7 separate regions of the Homo sapiens genome follow, and all the other regions are linked to region 7. The links come from fine-mapping of genetic effects on gene expression. A gene starts in region 7. Each other region holds a variant in brackets. All regions are shown on one strand. Distances are between the middles of the regions. Region 1 overlaps GTF2I (general transcription factor IIi). Region 2 has its middle 22 kb from the start of MIR10525. Region 3 overlaps GTF2IRD1 (GTF2I repeat domain containing 1). Region 4 overlaps GTF2IRD2B (GTF2I repeat domain containing 2B). Region 5 overlaps RCC1L (RCC1 like). Region 6 overlaps POM121C (POM121 transmembrane nucleoporin C). Region 7 holds the start of NCF1 (neutrophil cytosolic factor 1).

What was found.
Region 1: its variant is fine-mapped to the expression of NCF1 in whole blood (TOPMed, PIP 0.98).
Region 2: its variant is fine-mapped to the expression of NCF1 in whole blood (TOPMed, PIP above 0.99).
Region 3: its variant is fine-mapped to the expression of NCF1 in whole blood (TOPMed, PIP above 0.99).
Region 4: its variant is fine-mapped to the expression of NCF1 in whole blood (Lepik 2017, PIP 0.92).
Region 5: its variant is fine-mapped to the expression of NCF1 in whole blood (INTERVAL, PIP 0.95).
Region 6: its variant is fine-mapped to the expression of NCF1 in whole blood (Lepik 2017, PIP 0.95).

Annotation. Positions count from the first base shown.
Region 1 is chr7:74,723,414-74,727,478 of GRCh38, reverse strand. All of the region lies in intron 12 of GTF2I (general transcription factor IIi), which reads right to left. GTF2I-AS1 (GTF2I antisense RNA 1) reads left to right here. Exons shown (of 4, transcript NR_110044.1): 2 at 1-77. Among named protein-coding and RNA genes, the nearest start is that of GTF2I-AS1, 3.5 kb to the left of the region's middle. The variant A/C (reference allele first, on the strand shown) is at 2,313.
Region 2 is chr7:74,616,214-74,620,278 of GRCh38, reverse strand. No RefSeq gene overlaps it. Among named protein-coding and RNA genes, the nearest start is that of MIR10525, 22 kb to the right of the region's middle. RefSeq lists enhancers at 2,306-2,870, 2,871-3,436. The variant A/G (reference allele first, on the strand shown) is at 1,947.
Region 3 is chr7:74,602,241-74,606,305 of GRCh38, reverse strand. It overlaps GTF2IRD1 (GTF2I repeat domain containing 1), which reads right to left. Exons shown (of 27, transcript NM_005685.4): 27 at 3,701-3,941. The coding sequence ends at 3,873. Among named protein-coding and RNA genes, the nearest start is that of MIR10525, 8.3 kb to the right of the region's middle. The variant C/T (reference allele first, on the strand shown) is at 1,682.
Region 4 is chr7:75,118,093-75,122,157 of GRCh38, reverse strand. GTF2IRD2B (GTF2I repeat domain containing 2B) reads right to left here. Exons shown (of 16, transcript NM_001003795.3): 4 at 1,148-1,267. Among named protein-coding and RNA genes, the nearest start is that of GTF2IRD2B, 28 kb to the right of the region's middle. The variant T/G (reference allele first, on the strand shown) is at 2,258.
Region 5 is chr7:75,052,619-75,056,683 of GRCh38, reverse strand. RCC1L (RCC1 like) reads left to right here. Exons shown (of 11, transcript NM_030798.5): 9 at 610-783; 10 at 3,888-3,973. Among named protein-coding and RNA genes, the nearest start is that of RCC1L, 19 kb to the left of the region's middle. The variant T/C (reference allele first, on the strand shown) is at 1,573.
Region 6 is chr7:75,418,933-75,422,997 of GRCh38, reverse strand. It overlaps POM121C (POM121 transmembrane nucleoporin C), which reads left to right. Exons shown (of 15, transcript NM_001099415.3): 13 at 1-1,489; 14 at 3,556-3,678. Among named protein-coding and RNA genes, the nearest start is that of TRIM73, 25 kb to the right of the region's middle. The variant G/A (reference allele first, on the strand shown) is at 2,291.
Region 7 is chr7:74,771,688-74,775,745 of GRCh38, reverse strand. NCF1 (neutrophil cytosolic factor 1) reads right to left here and starts at 1,735. Exons shown (of 11, transcript NM_000265.7): 1 at 1,643-1,735. The coding sequence starts at 1,714. RefSeq lists an enhancer at 2,909-3,454.

The DNA.
Region 1 (4,065 bases), 48 kb after region 7:
GTATCTCTGGAGAGCACAGCTGAGATCAGACTGTGTGTGTGTAACTCCACTAGACTACGAGGGTGCTTCTCATAAAGGTAAGAAATGCAAATTTGGCCTAATATACGATGTTGCCCGGGGCAGCACTGGGTCACTTCTATAGACACTTCTGTGTTAATCAAGGGAAATCTTAAGGGAAGGTGAAAATGCTTCTAGAAGGCGACTGGACACCAGCACCCTTGCTTGCTGCCTTTGGGCTCTTCCTCTAAGGCCAACAGTGACCTGAAATTATTGACTGGCTGGCCGTGCTAATCAACTGGAGAAAATGGTTCCGAGGTCACCAACATCAGACAAATTCATTTTAGGACCTATGTATGTGCTTAGAAAGACAGAAGTGCTTTTGTAAAGGATACTATTTCAGAAAAACATAATCATAGTAACAACTAATGACGCTATAAAATGCTGATGTGTTGAATGCTACTTTAGAAAAACATGTTCAAATCTAGGAAAAAATTTGATAGAAAACTATCTATCTATCGGCAGGGTCTCATTCTTTCTATCTATCTATCTATCTATCTATCTATCTATCTATCTATCTATTGGCAGGGTCTCATTCTATCTATCTATCTATCTATCTATCTATCTATCTATCTATCTATCTATCTGTCGGGAGGGTCTCATTCTATCGCCCAGGCTGGAGGGCAGTGGCATGATTATAGCTCACTGCAACCTCGAGCTCCTGGCCTCAAATGATTCTCCTGCTTCAGCCTCCCAAATAGCTGGGACCAACACACCTGGCTATTTTTCTTTTAATTTTTTGTAGGGACAGGGTCTCATTATGTTGCCCAGGCTGGTCTGAAACTCCTGGCCTCAAGTGATCCTTCTGCCTCAGCCTCCCAAAGTGCGGAGATTATAGGCATGAGCCACGGGACCAGGACAGAAAACAATTTTAAAATGACAACCTCCCTGTGAAATAAAACTTGACTGGCACCTGGGTTTGTATGACTGTAAGGATTAAAAATGGTCAAGACACCCTATAAATAGATTAAGGTTCCAACCTAAGTAGAAACAATCTGGAAAACAGAAGTGTGTAAGTTTGGACCTCAATTCTGAAAATATACTTTTTAAAAAACCCGATTTTCCAACTCCCAAACAGATTTTAGAAACCTTAAGAGTATTTTTATGCTGGCTTCCAAAGGTTAAAACAAAATACACTCATTTCACCTATGAATACTGTCAAAGCATTATAAATGCTTAATATTACTATATATTTTTTTACAAACATTAAGCAGTAACTTCTAAAATAAAAGTATTTCCCCTATAGGTTAAGGTCTCCTAAGTATCCTTATAGATCATCATTTAAGCTGACTATTCATTGAGTGACATAAACTGAAAGCTGCTAGAGTAGAATGACATGAGAAAGGAAACACAGCTGTAGATGGAATGGAAGGGACACCTGTGGAGCTCCATCCCATGGATCTCAGTCCAAATCCAAACTTCACAGCTGAGGCCCAGGGGAAGGGAAGACAGGTTTTCCTTACTGAAAAGACTTCACTTTTTCAGTCACACAAACATTTTAGACCACAATAGATTTAATAGCATAAATATATTTTATGAAGGTAACCCAATCGATCATAAACCAAAAAAAAAAAAAGAAAGAGAAAAAGGCAAATCTACTAGAGTGCTTTTTTAATACAACAAAGACTGTAAAATATTGAAAATATCAGGGATATCACATTTTCCTCTTCACTGACAAATAATAAAGTTCAATCTGTTAAATGTGAACATATATAGAGATGAATGTAGTTACTTTATTTTTTAAGACAGGGTCTCCCTCCTTCACCCAGGCTGGAGCACCACTCACTGCAGCCTCGACTTCCCAGGCTCAGGTGATCCTCCCACCTCAGCCTCCCAAATAGCTGGGACTACAGGCCTGCACCACCACGCCCAGCTAATTTTTTTTTTTTTAACTTTTGTAGAGATAGGGGTCCCCCTATGTTGCCCAGGTTGGTCTTGAACTCCTGGCCTCAAGTGATCCTCCTGCCTTGGCCTCCTAAAGTGCTGGGATTATAGGTGTGAGCCACCGCACCCAGCTGGATGTAGTTATTGATAAAATATCACACCATATATTCTATTTTAAAAACCCTGTTTCATAAACTTATTAATTAATCTTTGGGTGTTTTAAGTCATATGGAACATGGCATTCAGGCATCAGAACAGCTATAAACTTCACCACATCCTCAATTTTTTCTGCAATTAACTCTTTGTTGCAATTAATTGGTTTTGAGAAAGTAAGAAAAAAAATGGGTTTCTCGACCTAAAATCCTTTCCAC[A/C]AAGGATCAAAATTACTTTTTACTCTGAAGCATAAAACATCAACTAAAGCTCTAGGGCCTGCCCTCACATACTGGGCATTGCTCTTCCAATTATCTGCCGTTTCCAAAGTATAAACAACCATTTTTGTTTAACAAGACACACGTTTCAGCATGCTTCAAATTCAAGCCCAAACTCTGTTTCCATAATCAAAATGTAAAGCTTTTAAAATACATTTTAAGATATTTTATTTTATTTTTTGAGATGGAGTCTTGCTCTGTCACCCAGGCTGGGAGTGCAGTGGGCAGTGGCACGATCTTGGCTCACTGCAATCTCCACTTCCTGGGTTCAAGCAATTCTCCTGCCTCAGCCTCCAGAGTAGCTGGGATTACAGGCGCCCACCACCACGCCCAGCTAATTTTTATATTTTTAGTAGAGATGGAATTTCACCATGTTGGTCAGGCTGGTCTCAAACTCCTGACCTCAGGTGATCCACCCACCTCGGTCTTCCAAAGTGCTGGGATTACACCACCACACCTGGCCCATTTTAAGATATTTTAATATGCAAAAGGTGCTATTCATGAATTTACAATAGTTATGCTACCCACACTAACAAAAGCACTCCGCCAATACCTTCAAGTTGGCAACACCGTCCCTAACTCAAAATTTGTGTTTAGAAAACACCAACTTCCTTTTTGCAACATATTAACGAATACACCTAAAGATAATACAGGCTTCAGAGCTAAAGCTGTTTATCACTGCATTCTGGCCGGTGAATCAATAAATAGACTATGTTACAATATGTTCTGATACTCTTAGCTTCAACATAATCAGACTGGGAATGTGTTATCATACAATCTGACATCTATTCAAAGTTAAAAAAACAATCAACACCAGGTAATATATCTATTTCAAAACTGGAGCCATTAATTACCCTATACATTTCAAATAAATGGATTCATTCTTTCACCCATGGATACCACTTATAGCTCCTCTAAAACTCTTTACATAAACAATTGGGTATTTATTAAATGACTATTTGGCAGCAATAAAAAAAATTTAAAACAAAGTGTTCAAGTGCTAACCTAAGCAATTATGTCCATTTTAAAAGTGCTGCAGAGACATTTAAGAAAATACAAGAATTAAACAATAAACAGCAAAGCCTGGTGGCTTTGTCTTCAAAATCTCCCCAGAATCAACAACTTCTTATCTCCCCTGCCACCAACCTGCTCTAAAGCACTCTTCTCTGTGCCCTAGGTAGTTCCAAGAGGCTCCCAAGCTAGTTTTCTGTCAAAAAACTATTGACTGCTCTAGGTCTTCTCTTTTTTTTTTTTTCCCCCTTTTCTCAACATAGTCACCACGTTTCCTAGAAGTGAAGGACAAAAAGTGTCACTCTTATTTGCAAAACACTCCCGAGGATTTGCCACTGAATTATTCACTACTAAATTCTTAGCACCGTGGCCAGGCGCGGTGGTTCATGCCTGTAATCCTAGCACTTTGGGAGGCCGAGGCGGGTGGATCACCTGAGGTAAGGAGTTCAAGACCAGCCTGGCCAACATGGTGAAACCCCTGTCTGTACTAAAAGTAAAATATTGGCTGGACATGGTGGCGTGTGCCTGTAGTTCCAGCTACTCCAGAGGCTGAGGCAGGAGAATCACTTGAACCCAGGAGGCGGAGGCTGCGGAGAACCGAGATCAGGTCACTGTACTCCAGCCTGGGCAACAGAGCAAGACTCCGTCTTAAAAAAAAAAAAAAAAAAAAGAGGCCGGGAGCGGT
Region 2 (4,065 bases), 160 kb after region 7:
TGCCAAAGTGCTGGGATTACAGGCATGAGCCACTGCGCCCGGCCCATGCCTGGCTAATTTTTTTGGGGGGATGGAGTTTCTCTCTTATCGCCCAGGCTGGAGTGCAATGGCGCGATCTCGGCTCACTACAACCTCTGGCTCCCGGGTTCAAGCGACTCTCCAGCCTCAGCCTTCCAAGTAGCTGGGATTATAGGCGCCCACCATCACGCCTGGCCAATTTTTTTTTTTTTTTTTTTTTTCAGTAGAGACGAGGTTTTACCACGTCGACCAGGCTGGTCTCAAACTCCTGACTTCAGGTGATCTACCCACCTCGGCCTCCCAAAGTGCTGGATTACATGCATGACCCACCTCGCCCAGCTGCCTGGCTAATTTTTATATTTTTAGTAGAGACGGGGTTTGCCCATGTTGGCCAGGCTGGTCTCAAACTCCTGACCTCAGGTGATCCATCCGCCTCAACGACCCAAAGTGCTGGGATTATAGTCGTAAGCCACCGCGCCCAGCCTCCATGGAGAGCTTTTTTTTGTCGACGATGTTAGGGCCACTGCAGCCAGTATCACCTGTAGGCAGCCCCTGCAGATCCCTGAGTGGCTGCTGGCACAGGGGAGAGAACAGGTGCGGGGCTCAGCAGGGACTAACTCTCTGTCTAAAGGAGAAGGCAGAAATTCTGCCCCCTTGGATCTTGGAGATCTGTTTATGGGTCTGTATCTGCCTGCTAGCCAGCTGCTCGGGGGCCCAGGAGTCTCACTCCTCTCCCAGGGCCTGACCTTTGCAGACAGAGGGGGTGCTGGGAACTAGTGCGATGAATGACAGCACCCAGGACACCGGGGCCTGTGAATCTTCAGCGAGGAGGTGCCCTGGAGCTCAGGGAATCCCAACCACTGCCCGGGGATGACCTACAGGGAGGTGGGAAGTTGGTGGCTGAACCAGTATTAGCACCTAAGTGTCTCACACAGCCTGGCCCTCTCTCCTGGGGCATCTGTGTCTGGGCCTGCAGGAGGAAGCCCCTCAATTGCTCAGGCACACGGAGTGATTTCTTTCTTTAGGGGGCAATTTGTTCTTTTGTTCCCTCTCCTTCTCCCTCTCTTTCCTTTCTGAGAAATCTGATTAGAACTTTGAAAGCTGAGCCGTTTTAGGATCAGGTTGCCACATTTAGCAAATAAAAATAGGGGATGCTGTGTTGAATTTGAATTTCAGATAAACAACAAATAATTCTTGAGTGCAATCATGTTCCTTGCAATATATGGACATAACTTACACTAAAACAATTATTTGTTGTTCATCTGAAATTCACATTTGACTAGGCTTCTTGTATTTTATTTGGCAACCCTACTTTCGGAGCCACGATTCTGTTAACAATTGCTTTTTTTTTTTTTTTTTCAGAGCTGGAGTCTCACTCTGTCTCCCAGGCTGGAGTGCAGTGGCATGATCTTGGCTCACTGCTACCTCCGCCTCCCAGGTTCAAGTTATTCTCCCGCCTCAGCCTCCCAAGTAGTTGGGACCACAGGTGTGTGCCACCATGCCCAGCTAATTTTTGTATTTTGAGATGAAATTTCACCATGTTGGCATTTAATCAATTCTTTTTTTTTTTTTTTTTTTTTTTTTTTATGAGATGGAGTCTTGCCCTGTTGCCCAGGCTGGAGTGCAATGGCATGATCTCGGCTCACTGCAACCTCTGCCTCCTGGGTTCAAGCGATTCTCCTGCCTCAGCCTCCCGAGTAGCTGGGATTGCAGGCACCCACCACCAGGCCCAGCTAATTTTTGTATTTTTAGTAGAGACAAGGTTTCACCATGTTGGTCAGGCTGGTCTAGAACTCCTGACCTCGTGATCTGCCCGTCTCGGCCTCCCAAAGTGCCGGGATTACAGGCGTGAGCCACCGCACCCAGCGCGATTTTACCATGTTGGACAGGCTGGTCTCAAACTCCTGACCTCAAATGATCTGCCACCC[A/G]CCTTAACCTCCCAAAGTGCTGGGATTACAGGTGTGAGCCACTGCGCCCGACCCGTGTTAGCAATTTCACTTGGTCCCTGTGCAGAAGCTGCAAAGAGAAGACTTTTACTGGGTCAGAAAGGAGGAGGGGGCACAGGAGTCAGTCCAGGTTTCAGGAATTTGGCCCCAAAAGGCAGGAGAACCTCTTGAGGACAGGAGTTTGAAACCAGCCTGGGAAGCATAGTGAGACCCCATTTCTACAAAAATAAAAATTAGCCGGGCATGGTAGCGTGTGCCTGTGGTCCCAGCTACTCAGGAGGCTGAGGCAGGAGAATCATGGATCACTTGAACCTGGGAGGTCGAGGCTGCAGTGAGCTGTGATTACGCCACTGCGCCTCCACCTGGGTGTTAGAGCAAGGCCCTGTCTCTAAAAACAGAAAAAAAAAAAAAAAAAAAAGCAGAGAGAGAAAAGAAAGAAACCCTTCTCTCTGCTGGCTCCCCCAGAACCTAGCTGGGTCCTGCAAAACTAACCCCACTGCCATTTCCCTCTGCCATCTCTCCTTTGAACAATCCCCACGGATCTCTGCTTGGTCCCAGCCTGTCTGAGTTTCCAAGAACAGAAGGAACGATGGCACCTGCTGCAAGATGTTGAGAGATAAATGAGGAAGCCGCTCAGACAGCCAGAAAGACAGGAAACCCTTGGCTGCCTCGAGAGAGGAAATAGGAGCAGGGAGGCAGGGGTGTGGGAGGGGGTTTGGGCCAGCAGCACTGTGATCCCCACCCCCGTCCCCACCACGTGGCTTCACAGGGCAGGCGCCATGAAGGCTCTGAGCAGCAAAGAGCTGCTGACCAAGAAGACATGGATCATGTGCAAGCATGGCCACATGGTTTTGTTTGTTACTGGGCACACGCCTGGCTCCTGTGTGCCCCAGCCCAGCTCAGCTGCATGTAAGATGGGATCCAGCCACCATCTCAGAGCCCCAGAGCAGGGCAGGTAACTGGGTCTGCTCATGAGAGCCAGGGCACACCTCTGGGGAGCCTGGGGCCAGCGCCACATGCCACAGCTGTCACTCTGCTCCTCTGCCAGGCTGCACTTGCCCCTCTGGGTCTCATGTCCCCAGGCAGGGCCCTGCCGGTCTCCTGGATGCCTGCTGCATTAGGCTAATGGAACTGGAGCCTGACCCTTTGCACCAAGGAATTTGGAGCAACTCTGAATCTGGTGGCCTGGGCTCAAACTGGAAAACTCCACCGAACCTTCCATGTCCTCAGTCTCCCTAGGCCTGCACCTACCACACTCTGCCACCACGCCCGGCTAATTTTGTATTTTTAGTAGAGACTGAGTTTCGCCGTTGGGAGGCTCAGGCAGGAGAATCGCTTGAACTTGGGAGGCAAAGGTTGCAGTGAGCGGAGATCACACCACTGCACTCCAGCCCGGGTGACAGAGCGAGATTCTACCTCAAAATAAATAATTAATTAATTAATTAAAAAATAGAAACCTCATAATCTCTCCATTGTCTCTAATCTTATCCCTTGATATTGACTATCAATGTTAATGGCAAGATATGTATCCTTCAGCATCTTTATGCTCATGTAAGTGATCACACATACACACGTAATTTTTCTACCTTTTCTCTTTATTTTTATGAAACAGAGTCTTGCTCTGTGGTTCAGGCTGGAGTACAGTGGCACGATCATAGCTCACAGCACCCTCTACCTGCTGTGCTCAAGTGATCCTCCAGCCTCAGCCTCCGGAGTAGCTGGGACCACAGGCATGCACCACCATGGCTGGCTAATTTTCTAGCTTAATGAAAATGGAGCATATGGTGATCAGTCAGGATTGCATTCAGCTCCTGCAAACCGTGGCTTAAATAAGAAATGAGTTTCACTTTTCTTGGGTGACAGCAGCTCAGGGTTAGATGGTGCAGTCTGCAGCAGCTGCTGAAACACACACTCTCTCTCCTTATGCGCCCTATTTCCAGAGTGTCACTTTGGTCCCCACGGTCATAGATGGCTTCTGCCTTCTAGGCGCTGAGTGCACGGTCGGGGCGAGAGAAGACAAAGGGAAAGAGACATGTATCAGCCAACTCTGATTCAAAGCACAATATGTGCTATGGGAAAACAACAGTTGGCCAGGCATGGT
Region 3 (4,065 bases), 170 kb after region 7:
GTGGCCAGTTGAGGAGGTCACTCCTGCCCCCATCCTGGAGTGGAAAAAGTGGGCCCGGCCCAGGGCAGGGGCTGAGGGTGGAGTGGAGGCGCCTGGTGGCACTGGGAGCCACTAGGAGGTGGGAGGGAGGAAGGTGAGGCTGGCAGCTGACTGGGTGGGGGGTTTGCACCAGCGGAGAGGGGGTGGCTGTGCCAGGCACGTGGTTTCTAGCGTCTTTCCAGGAGGAAGTGTGGTCTGGAAGGCTGGGATGGGGCCTTCCTCCCAGCTCTGGGCATGGATGGGACTGACCCTGAGGACTGGCAGAAGCCCTGGACTAAAGTTTTGACCATTTCCTCAGCTGATTCAGAACTCAGTCCCTCCAAGCCACAGGCCTCATTCTGGGCCCTGGGTGGACGGTTAGAGCCAGATCCTGGGACCACCCTGACCCCTGACTCTCCAGAACCCCTCGTCCACCCGACTGGCTGACCCTCTAGTTATTTTCTCCACCTGGCCCAAACCACTGCCATCTCTCTCTCTCTCTCTTTTTTTGAGACGGAGTCTCGCTCTGTTGCCCAGGCTGGAGTGCAGTGGTGCGATCTCAGCTCACTGCCAATCTCTGCCTCTTGGGTTCAAGAGATTCTTCTGCCTCAGCCTCCAGAGTAGTTGGGATTACAGGTGTCCACCACCATGCCCAGCTAATTTTTGTATTTTTAGTAGAGACAGGGTTTCACCATGTTGGCCAGGCTGGTCTCGAACTCCTGGCCTCAGGTGATCCACCCACCTCAGCCTCCCAAAGTGCTGGGATTACAGGCATGAGCCACTACGCCTGGCCTCTACTGCTATCTTCTGTTGGAGCCTCCCAGGTGGTCTTCTGATGTATTCCTCCCTTCCTTCTCCGACATCTCTCAGCGGGCAGGGGCACCCTTCCAAAATGCAGACCTAGGCCTGGCTCTCCCCCAGGTACTTCCTGCTGTGGGTCTCATTTGCCTTCTGGAAATTGCCTTGGCCCGGCTTATGAGGCCTTCCACGTGGGTCGGTGAGAAAAAGTACGCAGCTCTGTCCCAGAGTGCATGGCTGGGCAGGTGTAACCCAGGCTGGATGTCTGCCTCTGCCCACCACTTCAGCCCGGCACCATGTGTAGGAGACACCTGCTTAGCGTCCTCGGGAACCCTGACTAAGTCCACACCTGCCCTGACATGTCACCTCCAGCCACCCTGTGTCTGCTCTGGTGACACCTTCTTATTCCTGGAACGTACCCAGTCCCTGTCCAGCTCCGTTTTTGCCCACATCGCTCTCGTCTTAAACACCCACCTACCTCAGCCCTCCTCTCTTTGTCCCCCCAAAGCCTCACTTGCTCTTCAAGCCTCAGCTTCAAGGACTCTTCCTACTTTCTGCACTAGGTGAGGCCCCCCCGCTTTGTTTTTTCAGAGGCAGGGTCTTGCTCTGTTGCCCATGCTCAAGAGCAGTGGTGCAATCACGGCTCACTGCAGTGTCAAACTCTTGGTCTCAAACAATCCTCCTGCCTCAGCCTCCAGAGTAGCTGGGACCACGCACACACCACCATACCCAGCTAATTAACATTTTTTAGAGAAAGGGTTCCACTATGTTGTCTAGGCTGGTCTTGAACTCCTGGCCTCAAGCGATCCTCCCACCTTGGCCTCCCAAAGCACTGGGATTACAGGCCTGAGCCACCGCACCAGCC[C/T]TACTCTGTTTTGTACTCCCTGGCAGCTGCCTCCCCAATTAGGACACTCAGCTGCTTGGCCTCCCCAGCCAGAAGGGCAGGGCTCAGTAAATATGTGTCACCCAATAAGCAGGGACTGGGTGCCAGGCCTTGGACGCCTGCCACGCTCTTGTGACTTGTCTTTCTGCCTTCAGTCTTGTCCCTTCCTTCAACTTCCCACCTGCCCCTAAAGTGGTCTTTCTGAGACACAGCTGGGACCCCATCACTCTGCTTGTCAGGTATCCAGAGCTCTATCCAAAATCATCCCAGGCTGGGCATGGTGGCTCACGCCTCTAATCCCAGCACTCTGGGAGGCTGGGGCAGGAGGATGGCTTGAGCCCAGGAATTTGCAGCCAGCCTGGGCAACATAACCCAAGACCCCATCTCTACAAAAAAATCAAAAAATTAGCTGGGTGTGGTGGCTCACACCTGTAGTCCCAGCTACTCTGGAGGCTGAGGCAGGAGGATTACTTGAGCCCAGGAGTTTGAGGCTGCAGGAAGATATGATCGTGCCACTGCATTCCAGCCTGGGGACACAGAAAGAACTTGCCTCTGAAAAAAGAAAACTTGTCCTGCCCCCACCCCACCCCCCTTTTTTTTTGAGATGGAGTTTCATTCTTGTTGCCCAGGCTGGAGTGCAATGGTACAGTCTCGGCTCACTGCAACCTCTGCCTCCTGGGTCCAAGCAATTCTCCTGCCTCTGCCTTCCAAGTAGCTGGAATTACAGTTGCGCGCCACCACACCTGGCTAATTTTTTTGTATTTTTAGTAGAGATAGGGTTTCATCATGTTGGCTGGGCTGGTCTCGAACTCCTGACTTCAGGCGATCTGCACACCTTGGCCTCTCAATGTGCTGGGATTACAGGCGTGAGCCACCGCACCTGGTCTCCAAACCCCTTTTTGAAGAAGCCTCCCATCCAGCCACAGTGCTTCACTGGGATGGGCCCCTCCCTCTCTGACATTTACCATATTTAACACTTTTTTTTTTTTTTGAGACAGGGTCTTGCTTTGTCGCCCAGGCTGGAGTGCAGTGGTGTAATCATGACTCACTACAGCCTCAACCATCTTTACTCAAGCAATCCTCCTCCTGCCTCAGCCTCCTGAGTAGCTGGACTCCAGGTGTGTGCACCACCACGCCTGGCTAATTTTTGTGCTTTTGTTTTGTTTTTTTGAGACGGACTTTTGTTCTTCTTGCCCCAGCTGCAGTGCAATGGCGTGGTCTCAGCTCACTGCAACCTCTGCCTCCCAGGTTCAAGTGATTCTCCTACCTCAGCCTCCTGAGTAGCTGGGATTACAGGTTCCCGCCACCACACCTGGCTAATTTTTGCATTTTTAGTAGAGATGGGGTTTCACCATGTTGGCCAGGCTGGTCTCGAACTCCTGACCTCAGGTGATCCACCCGCCTCGGCCTCCCAAAGTGCTGGGATTACAGGCATGAGCCATCATGCCCGGCCTCATTTTTGCATTTTCGTACAGACGGGGTCTCCTTATGTTGCCCAGGCTAGTCTCAAACTCCTGACCTCAGGTGATTCACCCGCCTCAGCCTCCCAGAGTGCTGGGATTACAGGTGTAAGCCACATTTAACATTTTCTAGAGAAAGGGTTCTACTATGTTGCCTAGGCTCATCTCAAACTCCTGGTCTCAAGCAATCCTCCCACCTTGGCCTCCCAAAGCATCGGTATTACAGGCCAATGAGGTCGAACTCCTGACCTCAAGCAATCCACCCACCTCGACATCCCAAAGTGCTGGGATTCCAGGCATGAGCCACCACGCCCGGCCCCGTGGCACATTTTCCTTCCGTGGCTTTTCTTCTTGAGGTCACGTGCTCCCAGGAGCACAGAGAGCTCTGGGGTCTTCCTGGACACTACCTCTGCTGTGATGAAGAAGGAGGGCCTTGGCAGGCCACCTGAGCTGCGTTTCCTGACCCTGTCCCCAGTGACAGCTGCGGCCACGATCCAAAAGAGAACATGAAACAGTGACCGTAAAAGTAAAGGCAACACTCTTTTTTTTTTTTTTCTTTTTTTACTTATTTAAAAAGGCCTTGGTGGCAGGAATATAGTGTAAAAATCATTGGAAAAACTAAAAGGCATCGATACATATCCGAATATACATTTTGTACATAAATTACATTTCCTTTAGTCTTTCTGAGTGAGGTCCTGATTCAGTACTGAGGTCTAGTAATTAAGAGGTCCCGGGAGCTGCACGTTCAGGCCGGCATAGTCCACCATGTACATTGGCCATTGCTAGAGAGAGGGACAAAGGGACTGGATTAGGACTCCAGGTGATGCGGAACAAACCCAAAATGCTTAGTTCTGCTTTTGGAAGAGCTTTCTCAGAGGCTATTTATTTATATTTTTTATTTTTTTG
Region 4 (4,065 bases), 350 kb before region 7:
AAGAGTGATCAATACAGAAGTTTCCACAGAGCAGAAGATCCAAGATCCACATCATCTTCTATAAGAACACTTAATCTGGTAATTAAGAACTGGTGGGCCGGGCGCGGTGGCTCACGCCTGTAATCCCAGCACTTTGGGAGGCCAAGGTGGGCGGATCACGAGGTCAGGAGATCGAGACCATTCTGGCTAACACAATGAAACCCCGTCTCTACCAAAAAATACAAAAAAAGTTAGCCGGGCACGGTGGCGGGTGCCTGTAGTCCCAGCTACTCAGGAGACTGAGGCAGGAAAATGGCAGGAACCCGAGAGGCGGAGCTTGCAGTGAGCCGAGATTGAGCCACTGCACTCCAGCCCGGGCAACAGAGCGAGACTCTGCCTCAAAAAAAAAAAAGAACTGGTGGCCAGGCACGGCGGCTCACACCTGTAATCTCAGCATTTTGGGAGGCCAAGGCAGGAGGATCACCTGAGGTCAGGAGTTCGAGACCAACCTGGCCAACATGGCAAAACCCCATCTCTACTAAACATACAAAAATTAGCTGGGCAAGGTGGTGGGCACCTGTAATCCCAGCTACTTAGGAGGCTGGGGTGGGAGAATCGCTTGAACCCAGGAGGCAGAGTTTACAGTGAGCTGAGATTGTGCCAATGCACTTCAGCCTGGGTGTCAGAGCAAGACTCCTCTCAGAAAAAAAAAAAAAAAGAACTAGCTCCTCGCTTGATAAGCATATGGGTTTTGAAATGTTCAAACATTCTAAGTAGTCATGGCAATAAGACTGTCTGTGACACTGTCCTACTCCTGGGTGAACCACTTAGAGAATTCATGCTTGGCTGGGCGCGGTGGTTCACGCCTATAATCCCAGCATTTTGGGAGGCCAAGGCAGGCGGATCACAAGGTGAGGAGTTTGAGACCAGCCTGGCCAACATGGTGAAACCCCATCTCTACTAAAAATACAAAAATTAGCTGGGTGTGGTGGTGGGCGCCTGTAATCCCAGCTACTTGGGAGGCTAAGGCAGGAGAATTGCTTGAACCCAGGAGGCGGAGGTTGCAGTGAGCCGAGATCGCACCACTGCACTCTAGCCTGGGTGGCAGAGCAAGACTCCATCTCAAAAAAAAAAAAAAAATAGAATTAATGCTTAAAGTGAACGTTACCATAACAAAAGCAGAAATAGTCCTCCACTGCCTTCCTGAGTATTTCCGTTTCGCCCGAGTGGACCTGCATCCCGTTCACAGGGCAGGGAGGTTTCACCTCACACAGTCCCTCTGCAACGCCTGCAAATGGATGATTGGCATTAGGTCAGTTTCTAAGCATTTGTGCTGTACACTTCCGTACTTTGTTTCTGGTATTGAAAGAAAAAAGGGAAAAAAGTGAATAAATATAAAACAAGATCTTTTAAAGAAAAACAAGAAAAAATTGTATTTATGATAAACAGGTTAATGAACTATAAAAAAATCAACATATAAAGAAATAGTAGTAGTTTAAGGAAATTATTATTTTTAGAGACAGGGTTTCACTCTGCTGCCCAGGCTGGAGTGCAGTGGGATGATCGAAGTTCCCGGCAGCCTCAAATTTCTGGGCTTAAGCGGTCCTCCCACCTCAGCCTCCAGGAGTGCCCCATCACACCTGGCTAACTTTTAAATTTTTTTTAGAGATGGGATCTCACTATGTTGCCCAGGCTGGCCTCTAACTCCTGGCCTCAAGTGATCCTCCCATCTTAGCCTCCCAAAGTGTTGGGATTACAGGTGTGAGGCACTGCACCCATCCAGAAATTATCTTTATAACAGAAATTTGATTTGCTATACAGTTGAAACGTGGCAATAATTGTATAGGAAGACTATACCCCTGAACCCATTCAAGACCAGCCCCAGAATCAATTGCTCCTCCAAAAGTTTTAAAACTGATTGTTTTCATCAGTCTAGTCAGAAGAGAGAAACCACATAGTAATTTGAACACAGAAAGGTTTTTGTTTTTTTTTTTTGTATCAATGTAAGGGGCACAAGTATAGTTTTCTTTCTTTCTTCTTTTTTTTTTTTGAGACAGAGTCTCGCTGTGACACCCAGGCTGGAGTGCAGTGGCATGTTCTCCACTCACTGCAAGTTCTGCCTCCCGGGTTCACGCCATTCTCCTGCCTCAGCCTCCTGAGTAGCTGGGACTACAGGTGCCTGCCACCACGCCCGGCTAAGTTTTTGTATTTTTTAGTAGAGATGGGGTTTCACCACGTTAGCCAGAATGGTCTCGATCTCCTGACCTCGTGATCCGCC[T/G]GCCTCGGCCTCCCAAAGTGCTGGGATTACAGGCCTGAGCCACCACACCCCGCCAAGTATAGTTTTCTTGCATGGATATACGGTGTTGTTGGTGAAGTCTGGGGTTTTAGTGTACTCATCACCCAAATAATGTACATTGTACCCATGAAGTAATTTATCATCCCTTACCCACCTCCTGCCTCCCACCCCTGAGTCTCCAGTGTCTGTTATTTCACACTCTATGACCATGTTTTTGTTTGTTTGTTTTGAGACAGAGTCTCACTCTGTCACCTAGGCTGGAGTGCAGTGGCGCAATCTCAGCTCACAGTAATCTCTGCCTCCTGGGTTCAGGAGATTTTCGTGCCTCAGCCTCCCTAGTAACTGGGATTACAGGCACCCGCCACTACACCAGGCTCATTTTTGTATTTTTAGTAGAGACAGGGTTTCACCATGTTGGCCAGGCTGGTCTCGAACTCCTGGCCTCAAGTGATCTGCCCACCTCGGCCTTCCAAAGTGCTGGGATTATAGGAGTGAGCCACTGCACCTAGCCTCACATTCTATGTCCATGTGTACCTATTATTTAGCCCCTCTTGTAAGTTAGGACATGCCGCATTTGCCTTTTTACGTCAAATGATAAAGACAATAGCCCCCAATCCCATCCATGTTGCTGCAAAAGACATCATTTCATTCTTTTTTTTTTTTTTTTTTTTTTTTTTTTTTTTTTTTTTTTGAGAGAGTCTTACTCTGTCGCCTAAGCTGGAGTGCAATGGCATGATCTCGGCTCACTGCAACCTCTGCCTCCCGGGTTCAAGCAATTCTTGTGCCTCAGCCACCTGAGTAGCTGGGATTACAGGCATGCACCACCGCCCCCGGCTAACTTTTATAATTTTAGTAGAGACGAGGTTTCGTCATGTTGGCCAGGCTGGTCTAGAACTACTGATCTCAAGTGATCCATCGCCTCAGCCTCCCAAAGTGCTTGGATTATAGGCATGCACTACCATGCCCGGCCATTTCATTCTTTTTTATGGCTGAATAGTATCCCATAGTGTACGTACCACATTTTCTTTGTCCCATCATCTGGTGATGGATGCTTAGCTTGATTTGCACATCTTTGCTATTGTGAATAGTGCTGTGATAAACGTTCAAGGCAGGTGTCTTTTTGATAGAATGATTTATTTTCCTTTGGGTAGATGCCAAGTAGTGGGCTTGCTGGATTGAATGGGGGTTTATGTTTAGTTCTTTGAGAAATCTCCATACTGTTTTCCATAGAGCTTGTACTAATTTACACCAACAGGTGAAGTTTCCTAGAAGAGTCGTCAACTGGTAACATGGGATTAGCTGCTAGAGGGACTGAGGACTCTAAAGAGAACATAAGCAGCAAATTGCAAGAGCATCTGTAACTGCTGGGCTAAGGCAGGGGACCCAGGAGGGAGCAAATCCAGGAATGGGGTGGCTCCCCAGGGCCGAGATCCAGACCTCATTAAACAGGATTTGGTCACGGCCCACTGGATAGTGGGGAAGCCTGTGGGGTTGTCCATGTGGTGGCTGGCAAGCAGGGGCCTGCTTTCTGGGGGTGCTGGTGGAAATCACTAGACAGTTACCCTGTGGGTGCCTGCAACACTTTCTGGGCGTTATAAGGAAGATGGCCTCTAGTGTGCTAGTGGAACTCTCTGGAAGCTACCTGGAGGGTGATGCCAAGAGAATTTGCTGGGAAGCCATGCTCTGGGGAACTGGTGGAACTCCCTAGGAAACTGCCTGTGGGTATGGTGCCACTGAAATTCACTGCGAAACCTCCTTCTGCAATTTTCTTTCTTCCTTTTTCCTTTCCC
Region 5 (4,065 bases), 280 kb before region 7:
GGAGTGGAGAGCGAACTACTTCATTCCCCTCCCTTAGCCTGGGCCAGAGAGACTCCAGCTCTGCCTTCTCCAGCCAAAAAATCAAAGGCAGATGGGAGAACAGCCTTCAGCTTTGGATAACGATGAAATATCTGGCACCACTGATGAATATTAAACTTTCTATAACCAAAACATCATTTCTAAGAGTTTTAAGAATCTGGCCAGACATTGTTGATGTGTTTGGCCTTCTGATCAGTGTGAAACACAGAGCTGTCATTAGGGGGAGAAAACATCCTCCAATTCTCTGGTATTCGTATGGGTTTTCTGGATGATTTATACGCTCGTCCCTTCCAGGTTACTAACCCTCAAGATGTGGGAAGTTTGTGTTCTGAGCCAGGAGAGCTGGCGAGACAGACTCCCCCAGCAAGAATTTAAGCAGGGGAGAGAGAATTATTATTCTAAATCTCTGTCTGCATGTTCTTGCCAAGCAAGGAGGAAAAAAACAAAACAAAAAAAAAACAAAAAAAAACCGTGTGGATGTCATAAACCTTGGTGGTGTAGTTTGAGTTTCTGGTGAGGGAGGTTCTTACTTGGATGGACTTACTGACCCTTGTTTTTACTGTAATGTAGGAGAAGGACATGTTTTTGTCTGGGGCTATGGAATTCTTGGGAAAGGTCCAAACCTAGTGGAAAGTGCCGTCCCTGAAATGATTCCACCCACTCTCTTTGGCTTGACGGAGTTCAACCCAGAAATCCAGGTTTCCCGCATCCGATGTGGACTCAGCCACTTTGCTGCACTGACCAGTAAGTTACCAAGCCCGGTGGCCCTGGTGTGAGCCCAGCAGAGGTTCTCTGTCTCCAGTTCAACCCCAAACTGCGGGCAGCTCTCAGGTTCCACCCATCCAACAGAACGGCGCCTTTGTACTGATAACTCAAGCAAGGGCTAAGCCAGAAGTTGTTTGCCTCGAGGTTGTATAATGTCTTGTTTTCCCCCCCTGGAGTTTTAATTTTGGTTCGTTTGGTTTGTGGGTAGGCTAACGTGAACGTGCATTTTCTCAAGAGAGCACCCGTCGGTGGTAGGAAGGGGCATTGCTAGTACGTCGGGTGCTGGAGGAAACCAGCAGAGGCTTGGCGGATCCATGGGTGGGTGATTAGGAAGTGAATGTGTGGGGCTTAATCCCATTCCCTGGCCGAGCCCAGACCCTGATCTGACCCAGGATATGGGATGGCAAAAGGCCGATTTGTCAGACTGTCCCGTGGTTTCACGGAGGTAAATCTACCGATTTCTCCAAAGTGCCGGGGTAGAGAATGATGAAAGGGGAGAGCAAAATGGAGGTTTTTCCCAAAGGCCTGCCAGATTACAAAGCCACAGAATATCCGCTTACCCTGCAGGGTAAGGGTAAGGAATGTGTCCTTTTCTTGGTTACATCTCTTACTCCACCACAGTTACCGTGGGTTCAATTTGCTGCTCTTTAGTTGACTCGAATAGTAAAACTGTCCTGAATTAATTTCATTCTGTGATTCTCAAGTAAATTAGTTATTTCCTTGCAATTAAAAGAATCTTTTCATCTCATGGCAAGTAATTGTTTTCTT[T/C]TTAAACATCCAGGCCGGGACAGTCAGTTGGTGTCATCTTTGGTTGAGTTCTCTGGCCTCATTCCCACGTGGGGCCTGTCCCAGATGCTCACCCTCTGTACCAGGGTCCTAACTGCTATTCACTTATTGTCTGAATTCCAGGCTCCAGAGGCCGTCAAACAGGCAGGCCTGGGTTGTTATGGCTGCCAGCTGGAGTTTTATCTGGCTCTAGGCTGAAGCACTGAAGTGGCAGTGGTCATGACTAAGCCAGAGAATTCCTGGCCACTGCCCAGCCAGAGTGGCCACTTGCATTTGCAGCTGAGTGTAGGTCTCATGAATTCTTTTTTTTTGAGTTGGAGTCTCACTCTTGTTGCCCAGGCTGGAGTGCAATGGCGCGATCTTGGCTCACTGCAACCTCCGCCTCCCGAGTTCAAACGATTCTCCTGCCTCAGCCTCCCAAGTAGCTGGGATTACAGGCACACACCACCACGCCCGGCTAATTCAGTGTCATGAATTCTTAAAGCTATTTTGATTTGATAAATAAGAGTCGTATGGACTAATTTTGGGGGAAACAAATATCTACTTTCCAGAAAGTTCTTAAGGCCTCAACTATGGGCAGAGACACATGTTTAGAAATCTGTGTGAAGCATTTGACTAGAGCAGAGGCTTTTCTATTTGCCCTCATGCCATGTAGCCATTTCAGGTCACAGCGAAATGAAATTCCTTTCTGGATTTCTCCCCGAGACTTAACAGGCCTCCTTCTAAGGGTGAGTTACTGCCTGTTGGTAGACAGAGCCTAGCTGTCTTCCTGCCTGTGTGCCTGGCATTTGCAGATAGCCATCTGGGAATTAGAGTTGGTTGGTTTATCCTGTGGTCTGCTAGCATTTTGGGGAGCCAGGCCGAATTGTTCTATTAAACACCTAAGGGCTAGCTGGGTGCAGTGGCTCATGCTTGTAATCCCAGCACTTTGGGAGGCCAAGATGAGAGGATCCCTCAAAGCCCAGGAGTTCGAGACTAGCCTAGGCAACATAGTGAGATCCCTTTTCTACAAAAAATACAGAAATTAGCTGGGTGTGGTGGTGTGCGCCTGTAGTCCCAGCTACTCTGGAGGCTGAGGTGGAAGGACTGCTTGAGTTTGAGAGTTCAAGGCTGCAGTGAGCTATGTTTGTGCCACTGCGTCGCAGCCTGGGCAGCAGAGTGAGACCCTGTCTCAAAAGCAAACAAACACACACACACAAAAACTATCTAAGGTCTGAGTGTGGAGAACAAGGGGCATGCTTAGATCAGGGGCCTAAGACAGCTTGTAATTATTCCGTACTTCATCAGCCCCAGGTCTTGTAGTCCTGGCTTTTCCATGTCACTTCCTCTGCCTCCCATGACCCAAGCCTTTTGCCCAACAGCTGATGGTGACATGGGCCCAGGAGTGCCCCAGCTGGTGCAGACAGAGTCCCACCTGAAGGCCGGGCTAGGAGAGGCCATCTCCTGGGTTGACCTCTTAAACAGCATCTTGTACTTTTTCTTCATGACAGTTTTTACAGTTTGTAAACATATATTAAAATCATCTGTCTGTTCCGTCTCTGGCCAGTCCCCAGCTCCTGGAACACAGACCTAGACCCAGCACAAGCAGGCACTTGGTCATTAGATGCCCTGTGGCTGAATGCTCCCAAGATATGGACAATCAATCCAGGAATGACAAATTGTCTTACTTTTCACTGTCAAATCAGGAAGCCCAGGGTGTCGCCAGGATTTGTGGAAGGCAGAGTTTGGTGGCACACGATTGTGGGCGGGGCACAAGGGGTGAGCAGAGTGGGCCGTGTGCATCAGTGACCTCCAGCCCCGTGCACCACCCCCAGACCCCAGCTCCATGCACCACCCCCAGACCTGTCCACCACCCCCAGACCCCAACTCCATGCACTACCCCCAGCCCTGTCCACCACCCCCAGACCCCAGCTCCATGCACCACCCCCAGCCCTGTCCACCACCCCCAGACCCCAGCTCCATGCACCACCCCCAGCCCCGTGCACCACCCCCAGACCCCAGCTCCATGCATCACCCCCAGCCCCGTGCACTGCCCCCTGCCCCATCTTCATTTGAGTGCTCATCTCCCACGTGGGTGGATGCAGCAGAAGTCCTGGCCGTGGATGTGTTTTCGATATGGGGACAGCATCTCAGACCCTTACTTTTGCCTTCAAAGAAAGCATGAACGCCTGGTAAAAGCTGAACAGTGGGCTCTGTAGGTATCTGGTTCTAGAAAGCCTGTTCTCATGACCCATCCTCTCCTTGGAGACTTGTTCTTCACACAGTCCCAACCAACCCCTGTTTTCCTCCCTTTGCAGACAAAGGAGAGCTGTTTGTATGGGGCAAGAACATCCGAGGGTGCCTGGGAATCGGTCGCCTGGAGGACCAGTATTTCCCATGGAGGGTAAGGCTGGCCGGGGAGGTCTTGAGAATGGATGCTAAGAGTAGAGTCACCTGACGTCACTGCAGACACCTCGCGTGCAGATGGGCCAGGAC
Region 6 (4,065 bases), 650 kb before region 7:
GCAGAGACGGCTACCAAACCCCAAGCCACATCTGCCCCGTCCCCCGCCCCCAAGCAAAGCTTCCTGTTTGGAACACAGAACACCTCACCTTCCAGCCCTGCCGCCCCTGCTGCATCTTCAGCATCTCCCATGTTCAAGCCCATTTTCACGGCTCCACCCAAGAGTGAGAAGGAAGGCCTCACACCGCCTGGCCCTTCAGTCTCAGCCACAGCGCCCTCCAGCTCCTCCCTCCCCACGACCACCAGCACCACAGCCCCGACCTTCCAGCCTGTCTTTAGCAGCATGGGGCCACCTGCATCTGTGCCCTTGCCTGCTCCCTTCTTCAAGCAGACAACTACTCCCGCCACTGCTCCCACCACAACTGCCCCGCTCTTCACTGGCCTGGCCAGCGCCACCTCTGCTGTGGCTCCCATCACCTCTGCCAGTCCATCCACAGACTCTGCTTCGAAGCCTGCGTTTGGCTTTGGCATAAACAGTGTGAGCAGCAGCAGTGTGAGTACCACGACCAGCACCGCCACTGCCGCCTCACAGCCTTTCCTCTTCGGGGCGCCCCAGGCCTCTGCTGCCAGCTTCACCCCGGCCATGGGCTCCATATTCCAGTTTGGCAAACCTCCTGCCTTGCCCACAACCACCACAGTCACCACCTTCAGCCAGTCCCTGCCCACTGCCGTGCCAACGGCCACCAGCAGCAGCGCTGCCGACTTTAGTGGTTTTGGCAGCACCCTCGCCACCTCCGCCCCGGCCACCAGCAGCCAGCCCACTCTGACGTTCAGTAACACGAGCACCCCCACGTTCAACATTCCCTTTGGCTCAAGCGCCAAGTCCCCGCTCCCATCATATCCGGGAGCCAACCCCCAGCCCGCATTTGGGGCCGCTGAGGGGCAGCCACCGGGGGCCGCCAAGCCAGCCCTTACCCCCAGCTTTGGCAGCTCTTTCACTTTTGGAAACTCTGCAGCCCCGGCCCCGGCTACTGCACCCACACCTGCACCTGCGTCCACGATCAAGATCGTGCCTGCGCACGTGCCTACGCCCATCCAGCCTACCTTTGGCGGTGCCACGCACTCGGCGTTTGGATTGAAAGCCACGGCTTCCGCCTTCGGCGCTCCCGCCAGCTCACAGCCCGCCTTTGGCGGCTCCACTGCTGTCTTCTCCTTCGGTGCAGCCACCAGCTCCGGCTTTGGAGCCACCACCCAGACCGCCAGCAGCGGGAGCAGCAGCTCGGTGTTTGGCAGCACAACACCATCACCCTTCACGTTTGGGGGTTCGGCAGCCCCCGCTGGCAGTGGGAGCTTTGGGATCAACGTGGCCACCCCAGGCTCCAGCGCCACCACCGGAGCTTTCAGCTTTGGAGCAGGACAGAGTGGGAGCACAGCCACCTCCACCCCCTTCACAGGGGGCTTAGGTCAGAACGCCCTGGGCACCACCGGCCAGAGCACACCGTTTGCCTTCAACGTGGGCAGCACAACTGAGAGCAAACCTGTGTTTGGAGGTAAGGAGGGGCGTGGACTTGGGCTACCGGGCCGGACACTGAAAAGCTGTGCCTGTGAAGCCTGTGGTCTCGGGGAGCTTATGCTGTGGCAGTGAAGAGACAGGCACTGAATATAGAACTCAGTGAGATGCCAGGGCATGATACATGTTTTGCTAACGTAGTAATGACTGGAGGAGCCATTGTGGATTTAACTGGTCAAAGGCCTTCTGAGTACTTAACAATTGTAAGCTGAAGGTTGGGCGCAGTGGCTCATGCTTGTAATCCCAATATTTTGGGAGGCCAAGGAGGGTGGATCACTTGAGGACAGGAGTTCAAGACCAGCCTGGGCAACTTGGCGAAACCCTGTCTCTACTAAAAATACCAAAAAATTAGCCGGGCATGGTGGTACCCACCTGTAATCCCAGCTGCTCGGGAGGCTGAGGCAGAAGAATGTTTCAACCCAGGAGGTGGAGGTGGCAGTGAGCGAAGATCATGCCACACTGTACTCTGGCCTAGGTGACAGAGCAAGACTGTCTCAAGCGTAAGCTGAATATGGGGGTGGGGTGGGGGTGGGCACAGCACAAGTGGACATGCCTTTCAGGCCCAGGATGGCGCATGCAAAGGCCCAGAGGCAGAAACATGTTTGGTATGTTGAAGAGCAGAACAAAGACAAGCATGGCAGGAGGGCAGGAGCTAAAGCAGTGGTGTGGAAGGAGGCCAAGAGGCGAGGATTGTTTGTGGCCAGGGTTGGGTGTTTGGGTCTTAAGTGTTCAGGAAAACCATTGCAGAATCAGGCAGAAGGATGCAGTGATGGTTCCTCCC[G/A]TGTGGAAGATGAATGTAGATCCCATGGCTTCTGTTTGCTTCGTGAAGTAGGAGAGAAAATCTGGGAGAGGGAAGGTCGGGATAAAGTGTATAAAAAAGGGGTCTTTTGAAATAGTCATTTTGGACAGTGGGGGAAAGGAACATCATATTAAAAAGTGTGATCAGTTTCCAGGCAGTTTGTGGGCTGGAAAATTGTGATTGTGAAGTTAAAGTGAGGCCAGTTAGCATGGCGTGTGTTTCCCAGCGACACTGGGTATAGATCTAAGGTCAGCGGACAGCTGGTGCCACCCGGCTGTGGAGACCCCAGCAAGCACAGCAGGAGGGGCAGCGGGTCAGTGCCCCGATGCAGCTCAGGGGGTGCAGGAGTGGAGAGCGGGTGAAGTCAGCTGCAGGAGGGGTGGTGCCTGCAGGAGATTCGGGAGCCGGAGCAGTTGTGGTGACAGTGTGGCTGCAGGAGTGGTGGCAGGGGTCGGGGAGAGGAGGTCATGGGGGTGGCAGGGCCGAGGGGCTGAGAGGACCATCAGTCAGCCCCACAGGGCGAAGTCACCGTGAGTGGTGATGGGGAGGAAGCCAGTGAGCCAAGGGTCCTCTGTGAATCAGGGAGTGACCTGGCAGTTGACAGGTGACATGAGGACATGGCAGATTAAAGTGATTTGAACCTGAGTTACGGTATTTAGGGAAGGAAGAGAAACTGTGTGGAAGCAGCGTGGGAGCACAGGGAGCTTCCCCTTGTCCGGGCCGGAGGCCAAGCCCTGAGAGCAGCCATCCCTGCAGAGGGGCTGCCAGAGAGGGCATCGGGCAGGCAGCCAGAGCCAGTCAGGGCAAGGCCGGGGAAGGGAGGGGACCACGGGGCATCACAAAAGACACAGGACGGACAAACCAGGCTTCAGAGGGGAGGGGACGGTGGCTAGGGGGAAAAGGCCTGAACAGAGGAGGTAGCCAACCCAGGTACGCTAGGAGGCGGGGGCCCCAGAGTACTCCCCTCTGCAGCGATGGTCAGGAGGCCCACGAGGTGGCTGCGGGGCAGGGGGGCTTTTTCTCTGCCCTGGCGTGGCCATTAGCGGGTGGGAGAAGCAGGCTGAGCTGGGGCACCAGGCATGAAGACTCGGTTGTCTGGCTCAGCTGCTGATGGAGGAGTGCCCCAGAAGCAGAAGTGGGGCTGAGGGTCCCGTGGGAAGTGCCCTGCAGAGCACAGGCTCCTGCCCGGCTCCTCGCCTGCCTCCGCCCTCTGCTCACTGGCTAGCTCTCTGTTCTCTTCATTCCAGGCACCGCCACCCCCACCTTTGGTCAGAACACCCCTGCGCCTGGAGTGGGCACATCGGGCAGCAGCCTCTCCTTTGGGGCATCTTCAGCACCCGCCCAAGGCTTTGTTGGTGTTGGACCGTTCGGTAAGCAGCAAGCCACCCTGTGGCCCTGCTCGTCTGTCTGAGGAGAGGTTGGGTGGGGTGGCAGGCTCCTGGCCCTCTGAGGCCCCGTGAAGATCAGGTTCAGCACAGGAAAGACATTTCGGGTTAGGAGTACAGCACAGCCCAGGGATGGGAGTTGGATGGCAGAGATCAGAGAGGAGCTGTCCGGGGTGGAAGTTTGCCTCCCATGGGAAGCCAGGTAAAAATGGATTCGTGGGCCTCGCTCTGAGACTCTGGGAGTTTGCATTTCAGGAGGCTCCTCCCGTACAGTGTTTCTGACGCAGCGGGGAAAGCCCTATTGAGGCACCCTGTGTTTTATTACTGGCCTGGCCTTCCAGAGATTTGGGCACCCAGAGCCAGAGTCTCAGG
Region 7 (4,058 bases):
AGAAAAAGAAAAAGAAAAAAGACTGATCCAGATTAAAGAAGGTTAAAGGCTATGACATTGATCCTTGACTGGATCCTAGACCTGAAAAAAGTTTTCACTGCAGAGGACAAGCAGGATAATCGGGGAAACCTCAGTAAAGTCTGTGGGTGGATAATGGTGTTTTGTCCATGTTAATTTCCTGATTTTGACACGTGTGTTGTGATTATGTAAGAGAATGCCTTGATTTTAAGAAATGCCCAACAACTAGTATTTAGAGGTAAAGAAACACGTCTTCAACTCACTCTCAAATAATTCAGAAAATATCCCCAGAAAGAGAGGTGTGGATGAAGGTGAGTGAAAGACTATTGGAGTGACTGGTACCGTTTTGACACCCAGTAGCCTTTCTGTAAATTTGAAATTTCAAAACTGAAAGTTACAAAGAAAAGGAGAAAAGTGACTAGGCACGGTAGCTCACGCTTGTAATCCTAGCACTGTGGGAGGCTGAGACCAGAGGGTTGCTTAAGCCGAGGAGTTCAAGATTAGCCTGGACAACATAGTGAAACCTCATCTCCACAAAAATTTTAAAAACTAGCCAGGCATGGTGGTGTGCGCCTGTAGCCCCAGCTACTCAAGGGGCTGAGGCAGGAGGATCACTTGGGCCTGGGAGGTCGAGGCTGCAGTGAACTATGATCGCACCACTGCACTCCAGACCTCATTTCAAAAAAACAGGCCAGGCACGGTGGCTCATGCCTGTAATCCCAGCACTTTGGGAGGCCCAGGTGGGTGGATCACTTGAGGTCAGGAGTTTGAGACCAGTCTGGCCAACATGGTGAAACCCTGTCTCTACTAAAAATACAAAAATTAGCCAGGCGTGGTGGTGGGCACCTGTAATCCCAACTACTCTGGAGGCTGAGGCAGGAGAACCAGTTGAACCTGGAAGGCGGAGGTTGCAGTGAGCTGAGATCGTGCCACTGCACTCTGGCCTGGGCAACAGATCAAGACTCTGTCTCAAAAAACAAAAAAATAACAAAAAAGAGAAAGGTCTTGGCACATAGGACTAAATGTTCCATACAAGCTTCAATTTCCTAAATGTAGTTCCTCCCTGGCCTTCCTATGGGATTAGGGGACCCAGTGGACTTGTGTGTCTGAGCAGGCATTTGTCCAGCCTCCTTGGGGACAGATGGGAGGACTCTATTGGCCCCTGTCATGGTGTCACCCTACTGGAGAGGATAAGACTCTAACTGACACTACAGGCAGCTGGGGAGAGAGAGAGCTTTAGTTTCCAGGCCTCCCTCTTGGGAGGGCCACTCTCTGATAGCTGGGCTAGTCAGGGAAGGCTTCCTGGAGGAGTGGGCCTCGGACCTGAGAGAGCGCTGGGCTGCCTGGCCATGGCAGGGGAGCAGAAAGAGGACTCCTGGCTAAGGCTGAGGGCCTGGCTGGGGACACAGGCGGGGACAGTAAAGGGCTGGGGCCCAGGGCGGGTCCAAGGGAACTGTCTTCCCAGGGATCAGAGGGGTAGATCCAGGCTCAAAGACCAGGGACCAGGTGCCCAAGACCCTGCCCCGTTAGTCCTCACTGGAGCTGGTTGGCCCTGGGACTGCAAGGGTGGCCGTGCTGTCCCTCCCGTATTCCCCCCACGGGATGCCCTCCACCAGCTACTCACATAGTGCTGGCTGGGTACGAAGCGCTTCTCAAAGCCCAGCAGGGCGATGTGACGGATGAAGGTGTCCCCCATGACTGGGTGGCCTCCAGTGCTCCCTGGCACTTCCAGGCTGCGCCTTAAATGCACTGGAAAGAGGAAGTCGCTTTTGTCGCGGTCGGGACAGGGGGCAGGGAGGGTACAGAAAGGGCTTTGCTTCTTCTTTCAGTTTCTGGGGACTCTTCAGGCTTGCAGGGTGTAAACATGGGCAGACTCATGTTCACACACACCTGCAGGGACAAGGAAAAGGGTTTACACTTGTCCTTCCCGTCGCCTGCACGGGCCCCACGGGTTTTGGGGGTGAATCAAGCTGCTCCTGCCTCAGGGCCTTTGCATTTGCTGCGTCCCCTTGACCATCTTTCCCCCCTTGACCATATTCCTGGTCTTGACCATGTTCCCCCCATTCACCATCTTCCCTCCATAACTCTCCTCCATTTCTCTGCTCAAATGTCACCTCTTCCGAGAAGCCTTCCTTGATAACTTCACATTGCATAGCAAACCTCATACCTTTCTCAGCCTCTTCCTGCCTCCTTTTTCTGCAGAGCACTTATCACTGATGCATCGCAAATTGCATTTAATTTTTCTTTATTATTATTGCTATTGTTATTTGAGACAGGGTCTTGCTTTGTTATCCAGGCTTAAGTGCAGTGGTGGGATCACAGTTCACTGCAGCCTCCAACTCCTGGGCTCCAGCGATCCTCCTGCCTCAGCCTCTGGAGTAGCTGGGACTACGGGTGTGTGCCACCATGCCCGGTTAAATTTTTTTTAATTTTTTTGTACAGACAGGGTCCTGCTATGTTGCCCAGGATGGTCTCAAACTACTGGCCTCTAGTGATCCTCCTGCCTCTGCCTCCCACTTTTTTTTTTTTGAGATGGAGTCTCGCTCTTGTTTCCCAGGCTGGAGTGCAATGGCGCGATCTCGGCTCACCGCAACCTCTGCCTCCTGGGTTCAAGCAATTCTCTTGCGTTAGTCTCCTGAGTAGCTGGGATTACAGGCATGTGCCACCACACCTGGTTAATTTTTTTTTTTTTTAATTAGAGACTGGGTTTCTCCATGTTGGCCAGGCTGGTCTTGAACTCCTGACCTCAGGTAATTCACTCGCCTCGGCCTCCCAAAGTGCTGGGATTCAGGCATGAGCCACCGTGCCTGGCCTGACTTAATTTTTTTAGTCTCCCCTTACCACAATGTGTGTCCCAGGAAAGCTAGGGCATGACCGGGTTATCAGGGGCTCTAGCCCCAGCCCCTCCATCTAGTGCCTGGCACACAGAGGCCATAAATATTTGGATCGTGACTGCAACATTCACTGAGTGAATGAATGAGTGAGTGAATGAATGAATGAGTCAATGAATGAGTGAATGAATGAATGAATGAGTGAATGAACGCGGGCATGGGAGTGTGCATGCAAGCGTTAGATGCTCATCCTTGGGTGTGTGTGGATGAGGGCCAGTGACAGCTGGGACGAAAATGGCACAGACTTTGAGTGAGACTTGAGTTCCAATCCTCAAGTAAGCAAATGGTTCATTGAATTGTTCCTTAGGGCTGACTCAGTTTTCTCCAGAGTGATATTAAGACTGTCAGCTTTGCCAGGAAGGGGATTTGGGACAAAGAGGTGAGGAGGGGGCAGCATGCCCAGGGACAGGCTGAGGCCTCTCTCTCCCACTCCCCCTAGAGCCTGGGAGGCCCAGAGCTTTTGGAGCTCATTCAAGGTCATGAGTTCATGAGTGGCGGGCCTCAGCCCCAGGCAGCCTGCTGCAGCCTGTGCCTCCCAGCAGGCCAGGGCTGCACCAACTCACCCTTGCCTGAGTCCAGGGTCAGCTCATGGTCCGGACCTGATCTCCTGGGGGTGAGGGTTGAGGTCTGGCAGATGAAAGCCAAGACATGCTGGGCGTTAATTTATTTGTTTGAAGCGAAGTTTCGCTCTTGTTGCCCAAGCTGGAGTGCAGTGGCACAATCTCGGCTCACTGCAACCTCTGCCTTCCAGGTTCAAGCGATTCTCCTGCCTCAGCTTCCCAAGTAGCTGGGATTACAGGTGTGCGCCACCACGCCTGGCTAATTTTGTATTTTTAGTAGAGAAGGGGTATCACCCTGTTGGCCAGGCTGGTCTTGAACTCCTGAGCTCAGGAGATCCACCCACCTCAGCCTCCCAAAGTGTTGGGATTACAGGCATGAGCCACTGTGCTTGGCCCTTTTTTTTTTTTTTTTTTTTTTAAAGACAGGGTCTCTATCTGTCACCCAGGCTGGAGTGCAGTTGCCTGGTCATAACTCACTGCAGCCTCCAACTCCTGGGCTCAAGCAGTCCTCCTGCCTTGGCCTCCCCAGTAGGTTGGGACTACAGGCACATGCCACCGCACCTGGCCTGTTCCTGCTTTTATTATCCAG